2 linked regions of the Homo sapiens genome follow. The protein of the gene in region 1 purifies or fractionates together with the protein of each later gene. This does not show direct contact. Each region holds a gene or a part of one and is shown on either strand. Other genes may lie near its edges.

Region 1 (3,206 bases):
GGGAGGGGGGTACATGGAGGGTGTCCCTATGGCCTTGTCACTAAGAAAGAACAGTTCGTGACTTATCCACTGCGTGTGAATTCAGCGAGATTGGGGAGGGAGGTTTCTTAGGGATAGGGCAGCCTCCACACTCCCATTGCTCCTCTACTCAGGGAAAGGGGGACGGTAGAAATGGCCTGCCTCTCCGGCCAGCACACGTACAGCCATCTCACCCCCACACGGCTCTTCCTCCACAGCCCCATTTTGGATTACACTTCACCTCCAGCCACTCCAGCCCTGGGCGCTAGTACTACAGCTCCTGGGGAAACGCCCCGGGGTGTTGGTGCCCGACTCGTCCCCCAGCCGTCTTCGGCTTCACGGGGTGGGGGAGGGACAGCCCTGACCCCATCTGCTCTCCTAGGCTGCCTAGCAGGCTCCTGTCGCCGCTCCCCGCCCCTTCTTCCAGAGTTCCATCCACTCCTGCCCCCACTCGACCAGAGTTCCTTCCACAGCAGTTCCTGGCCTGGGCGCTGTCCAGCTCCAGGCTGGGTGGTCGAGTCTTCCCTGGGCTCCGAGCAGAGGGAACTCCGCAGCCCGCCCCAGCCTTGTCCTGGGGCGCCTCTGTCCAAGTCGGTTTTCTCTTCCCTGGCCCCCACGCCTCCACCCTCCACTTCTACGGGATGCCACCTCCACGAAGGAGAAAGGAAAGGAAATACAAAGGCATACATTCCGTTTCTGTGGAATTTGCTCTTTATTTTGGGACCAGGGAAGGACCACACACAGCCCTCCAGCCCAGGGGGCGGGGGCACCGAGACGCGGGCGGAGGGCCGCACCCGAACCCTGCCCAGACGCCGCCGTCGGGAGGCAGAATCCGGGTTTCTGGGGTCGGGAGTGCGTATGCAAATGACGTGGGCGTGGTTGGCAGATCTCCCAGGAGGCCTCAGGGGTCCTCACCACAGGTCTGGGCCCTCCGACCTGCGGAAGCGAAGGGGAAGGAATTGGATCTGGGGAGGCGAGCCTGGGAGACGTCGTTAAGTGATGTTGCCAGGGTAGGGCCAGGCCGCGCTCTCGGATGCAGGATGTGTGGTAACGGGCGCTTTTACCGCGACCTGACGGGGCGGTCCTCGCCGTCGGGGAAGAACGTTTTGGAAAGAAGCGTGTCCGGGCCGTCTCTTTTCCCATACCTGGGGGCGGGGAAGGGAAGAGCGTGGTCAGATCTGGCCACGCCCCCAGGTGGAGCGGGGCCGCAGGGTGAGAGCCCCAGGGGTCCCGCTCCGCGCCTGCGCTCACCGCTGCCGGGTGACCAGGTTGAGGTAGTGGCGCAGGGAGGCGTAGTAGCGGTTCAGCTCCTCCGGCGAGGCGTCTTCGCGGGGAGCCTCGGGTTTGATGGGGTAGGCGTCGACCAGCGCCCCTAGGCAGACGAGCAGGGCCAGAAGCACTGTGGTCAAGGCGGGCCACGGCCTGCGCACGAACACCATCTGGGAAGGCGACATTGGGACGTGGGTCATTCCAAGCCTCGACCCTACACGGCGGGAGGCTGCGGCTGCCGTCGGGGCCGCGCTCCGACGCTCTCCCTGGGGCTGGTACCGGACCAAGGCTCAGCCACCGGGCTTGCTGTGTGTTCTTGGGCACTGCACCGTCTCCTGACTCAGTTTCCTCATGTCAGAGGAGCATAAGCCCTGCCTGCCTCCCCACCCCCACCCCCGCTGCTGGCCTCCTTCCCACCTCCGATGGCCCCCTCCAATCCAGTTTCCTACCACTCACCCCCAGCTTCCACCATCCCAGCCTCAGTTTCCCCACAAAACAGCCTGGGTTTCCCCAGGCTTGAGCCCCCAGCCACTCACAGCGATAGCTTGTGAAGCAGACGAGCAGGAGGTGGAAGGCGAGGGAAGTCCCAAGGGCTGCACTGCCGCAGGTCAAGCTGAGGCCTCCTCTGCTCAGCGCTTTCCTTGTGGGGCTTATATCCCCGCCTGGAAAGGGAGGGGGAGTCCCAGGGGGAGGGGGAGCCAGCAGGGGGTGGGCCCTTCTTCCTCCCTCCTTCCACCCTCGCCAGATCGCTGAGCTTATACCCAGCCAGTGCGTGATGTCTCCACCTCGCAGGAGCTGAGGGGGCAGTTGCCATGCTCAGATTCGTGGTCTCACTGGATGGGGTACCCAGCCTGAACCCCATGTTCACCCCACAGCCCCCCAGTGGCAGGTCTAGCCTCCTGAGGAAGTGAAGCGGTTGGATCTAGACTCCTGGGGCAGCCCCTAGGACCAGGGTTGAGATTCTGTCTTCCCTAGCCTGTCCGTGGATGGGAGTTGGGGGTGGGAGGGTGGACACATTCCCTCCAGTCCGTGGGATGTGTGACCACTCTTTCCAAAAGACAACCCTTTTCAGCCTCTGTTCAGTAATACCTTGGAGAAGGGCTGAGGAATGACAGGACCTTTTGGGGAAAGTCTTTCTCCTGGAGGCAGGGTGGGAGCACCTGACCTTGGCTCCTGACCTGCAGTTTATGGTGTCTTGGGGAGAGGCCTCTCTGAACACTCCATTATGTCCTCTCTCTATTAAAGAGTTGGAAAAGAGGCAGGAGGAGGCAGAAACCAATCTCCCCGCCAGAAGCAGCTGAGTCGGCCACCTGTGTATCCAGACTGGCACACACAGACCCCAGTCCAGCCATGTGTGGTATAGAGCCCCCTCCCAAGGCAGAGTGTCTCCACCCCTATGCAGGTGTCATTCAGAGCACTGGTGTCTTCTGGGCCTGAGTGATGCCAAGGCTTCCCAGGCACATGCCACTGTCCCCAGCCCATGGCAGTCTCCACTGGGCTCTAAGCCCAGATCCTTTGAAGGAAAGGACTCGTGTTTATTAAGCACCTACTATGCACTAGGTAGTGCATAATTTCGGGCATCACAAGACGATGAGCTGAGTTTATCTCCATTTTCCAGATGAGGAAACTGAAGCCCTGGGAGGTGATGGAGCAGCCAAGCTCACCCACAATTCAAACAGGAAAAGCAGGGTGAGGCAGAACCCAGGAAGAGGACCTCTCAATTGTGAGGGGCAGAAAGGCTCAGCACCTGGAGTAGCCATTGGGGCGCCAGAGGCAGGCCTGGGAGCAGGGACCCGAAGACTAAGTCTAGGGCCCACACCCACTCTGAGAGGCGGAGTAGGGGAAGGACCTTCAGACTGCCAACCCCCTCAAACCCACCTGCCCAGGAGGAGAAAGGGCTGTGGGAAGGTCTCCCCATA
Region 2 (3,819 bases), on another chromosome or scaffold:
AAGCATATTAAATAAGTCTCTCTTCATATATTTTCATATACCTTGTTCCTAGGTAGCTCTTAATATTTGAATTTTACTCGTATTTGAATGATTTTTAAAAATTGATGTATACTACTCCAACTGAACTCTTAAGTTCTTTAAAAACAAGGACTGTGGCTATAAGAAATCATTTTATCTCCAGTACCCTGCATAGACACTTTATTATTTAGGACGTAGGTCCTAAATAATTATTCAATGAATGAATAAAAATAATTACATACGTAAAGTGAGTTTTATGTCTGAGAATTGTAAAAGTATTAATACTCAAGAATGCATGTATTGTTTACCCACTGAAATATCTTCTGTGTAATGACTTATTCCATAGGAATCAAATATTGAGGAATATTGAGTTCAAACAATATGATAATGAAAACTTACGTTTTATTAAATGAATGAAACACTTTTAAACACTGTAAGACTCTTCACGAAGCCCTTTTAATACCACAACAACTTGCTGAAATATTTTCAAGTTTAGTTAGAATCATTGACAGGATACTTAAAGATTGGAAACTCAACAATTTAGGAAAGCAAACTTCTCTGGAAAAGACAGCAGCAGGTTAGAAAATTTAAATCAGCAAATGTTGAGAGAGCTATGCTATTACATAATATAAAACTTAACATGTGCAAACAGTACACTTTTTTTTGTTTTTTGTGTTTTGAGATGGAGTCTCACTCTGTCGCCCAGGCTGGACTGCACTGGCATGATCTCTGCTCACTACAACCTCCGCTTCCCGGGTTCATGCCATTCTCCTGCCTCAACCTCCCGAGTAGCTGGGACTACAGGCGCCCACCACCACGCCCGGCTAATTTTTTAATATTTTTTTTAGTAGAGATGGGGTTTCACCGTGTTAGCCAGGATGGTCTGGATCTCCTGACCTCGTGATCCGCCTGCCTCGGCCTCTCAAAGTGCTGGGATTACAGTTGTGAGCCACCGCACCTGGTCAACAGTGTGGTTTTTAACAACCTGCTACTAACAAAATATTAGGAATCCCTTCCTCAGAATTGGCATTAAAAACTTTAATTTATATAGCCCTCTTATTTTCATAAATAATCAAGCGTAAGTATATTTTCTTGTATTTAATGCAGGAATGTCTTGAAGGCAAAAACTATACTCCCCATGTTATAGGAAAGGAAACGGGTTCATGCAGATTAATTGTGTCCAAGTTCACATGGAAAGTTTTATAGAGACAAGATGCAAGTCTAAGTCTTCTGCCCTCTGGTTCATTGTTTTCACTGCATCACCAGAGTGCGATAGAAACTAGAAAATAAGGAATAGACTAGAGCTTGAGGGTTGTAGACATGTGTGAAGGAAAAAGAAGTTAGGAGGCATTTCACAATCAGAAAATTCCTATACTTATAAAATCATGGGAGGTTTCCTGGCTACTGTCTTCTTTTGCTCTATTTTTTTTGTTTTCTCTTCTTTTCTTTTCTCTTCCTTCTTTCTTTTCTTTTCTCCTTCCTTCCTCCCTCCCTCCTTTCTTTCTTCCTTGCTTCCTTGCTTCCTTTTCTTTCTTTCTTTCTTTTTCTTTCTTTCTTCCTTTCTTCCTTCCTTCCTTCCTTTCTTTCTTTTCTTTTCTTTTTCCTTCCTTCCTTCCTTCCTTCCTTCCTTCCTCCCTCCCTCCCTCCCTCCCTCCCTCAGGACAATATAGACACGGAGATGCCCGTGGAAGGAAGAGACCTGAGTGGTCTTCACTCACAGCAGTGATAATGGCTAAAAGCACCAAGGTCAAGTTAAAAAACTTTTTTTTCTTTTTTACTTTTAAAGTTTTGCCTCAAAAGAAATACATTTCTTTACTTCAACATCCTTTCAGGACTTACAATTGGGTGTTCAAAATATTTGAAATAATGTGTCTATTTAAAATTGTCAACCAGCTCAAGAGATATTACTAATAGCACCAAATAGTTACTGAAAATTAATTCTTCCATGCAATTGTAATTTTTAAATATATCAGATATTTATTACTGGGAGATAAGATTTGCTCTTTTAGTTCTATGATTTTCATTTTCAGCACAACTTTTTTGGGCAACAGTTTTTCTAACCAAACAGAAAAATCTAATATTTAGAGTGAAGAAAAAGTCTTAGCAGCTCATTTCTTTTCTTTTTTTTTAAAAAAAGAGAGTACACAATGTCAGTTAAAACAAAAATTTGAATTCTCACTGGTGACTATTAAACTATGTTTCAGTTTTTATTTCATGCCCAATCGTTTATGGTAAACACTGACAGAGTGATTCAGAATATAATATACAGCACTGAAGTTTCATCCCAGTGTGCTTCAAGGGGACTTCAAAAATCTTAGTCCAGGGCCCTTTGAGCTTCTTACAGCTTCCTGGAAGAAACACAACAAAGACAGAAATACAAGCATTGTGAACTCAAGGAGAAAATTCCCATTAGTGTTAAAGGAACTCCTTCAATGTGGAAAAGTATAATTTTAAGTATGGAAAAGACATTTTCAGGTCTTTTGTATGTGGTCCTAACTTTTTAGATGTGTTTCTCTCTCAGCATTTGTCAAATGTATTTGAAGTTCATTCAATCCACTTGGGCTGCATTTTGAAAGTGGCTTATGGAAATTTAAGCAGACAGTATCTATTAACATTAATAAAATTCCTAAGGCAAAATTCCCCCACACTGCATTAGCTCAATTATTGACCTTAGTATGAGGTTCTATTTTACTAAATATTTAGAGAGTACTCAATCCTTTAAAAAAAATCCCAAATGCTATTTCAATAACAGAATTTGATTAACCACATAAAATCGAAATAGTACAACTACCAGATTTGAAGGCCAGATGCAAAAACATTTTTGTGAAAACTCCCACCAGAATTGATTGGTATGTTTTTCTCATTGCATTTCTTCTTTTTTCAATGGGTGTATAGGCACAGCACTTGTGGTCCAGTGGGACCATGTACATCTCCAGGATAATTATAACCTGGGAAGCTTCACATTCCAGGCAACCCTGCTCATGGATGGACGAATCATCTTTGGATACAAAGAAGTAAGTGATGCGTTGATAATTTCTTTCCCTTCCCCTTGTTCTTGACTGCTGCCTTTCCTCCAAATGTCAAGAAAGGGACATTTTACAGCCATGATCCTCAAATCATTTTCTTGCCTCTTGGTTTCCTTTGCTTAATAAAAAATGTTTTGATTAGTTTTAATTTTCTGGGTGCATTGATTGTTAGCTCTTTTGTATTCTGATATTGTTGGCATCAGGACTCATCAATTTCATAAAATTATTGAGTAATTATATTGACTAATTATTGAGTAATTAGAGTGAAATGTCTCTAAGAAAAAAAATTCAATTTGGAGGGATTTCTCATCTAAATGTAAATGTTTATATTTACGTATTTTCTTTAGTTAGTTTTTTTTTTTTCACCTGGTTGATTTCTTTGTTATATTTTGGTTCTAATTTCAAAAGCATTTATAGACACGAAAACTTATGTGGCTCAAGGACCCAGTACTGAGAGAGTTCTAGGATGGCTGTGCTTTGGCTAATGTTTGTTGAAACCAGATAGGAAAGATTAATTAGAGACCTAAGTGACAGAAAAAACAAGGAAATTTAAACTTAGGTTTGTTTCATTTTAACAAACTGACAAAGTAAAGAATGAAAATTTACTAAATTGTAGCCTTAAATTTACAGAATATTTAGACTAGAATAACTGTGTGTTTGATTTCCAACTCTTCTGACAAAGTAAGTAAGGCCTGTTGGACTAAGAATATAAAAATAAAGTTCCAGGAACTACAAATGTAATGTTTTAGATAGTCTCTAATTATGAGAGAAACCT

Evidence for each region.
Region 2: the proteins of PYY (region 1) and PLXDC2 purify together in Homo sapiens (affinity purification with mass spectrometry; one large-scale study listed by BioGRID and IntAct). This does not show direct contact.

What each region holds. Positions count from the first base shown.
Region 1 is NC_000017.11:43,952,027-43,955,232, forward strand, and holds PYY (peptide YY isoform 1 preproprotein), read right to left. Parts: upstream 1,915-3,206; 5' UTR 1,824-1,914; intron 1,458-1,823; coding exon 1,270-1,457; intron 1,164-1,269; coding exon 1,083-1,163; coding exon of another isoform or gene 1,079-1,082; exon of another isoform or gene 955-1,078; coding exon 930-954; 3' UTR 707-929; downstream 1-706. UniProt on the Homo sapiens protein: This gut peptide inhibits exocrine pancreatic secretion, has a vasoconstrictory action and inhibitis jejunal and colonic mobility.
Region 2 is NC_000010.11:20,144,871-20,148,689, forward strand, and holds part of PLXDC2 (plexin domain-containing protein 2 isoform 1 precursor), read left to right. Parts: intron 1-2,913; coding exon 2,914-3,032; intron 3,033-3,819. UniProt on the Homo sapiens protein: May play a role in tumor angiogenesis.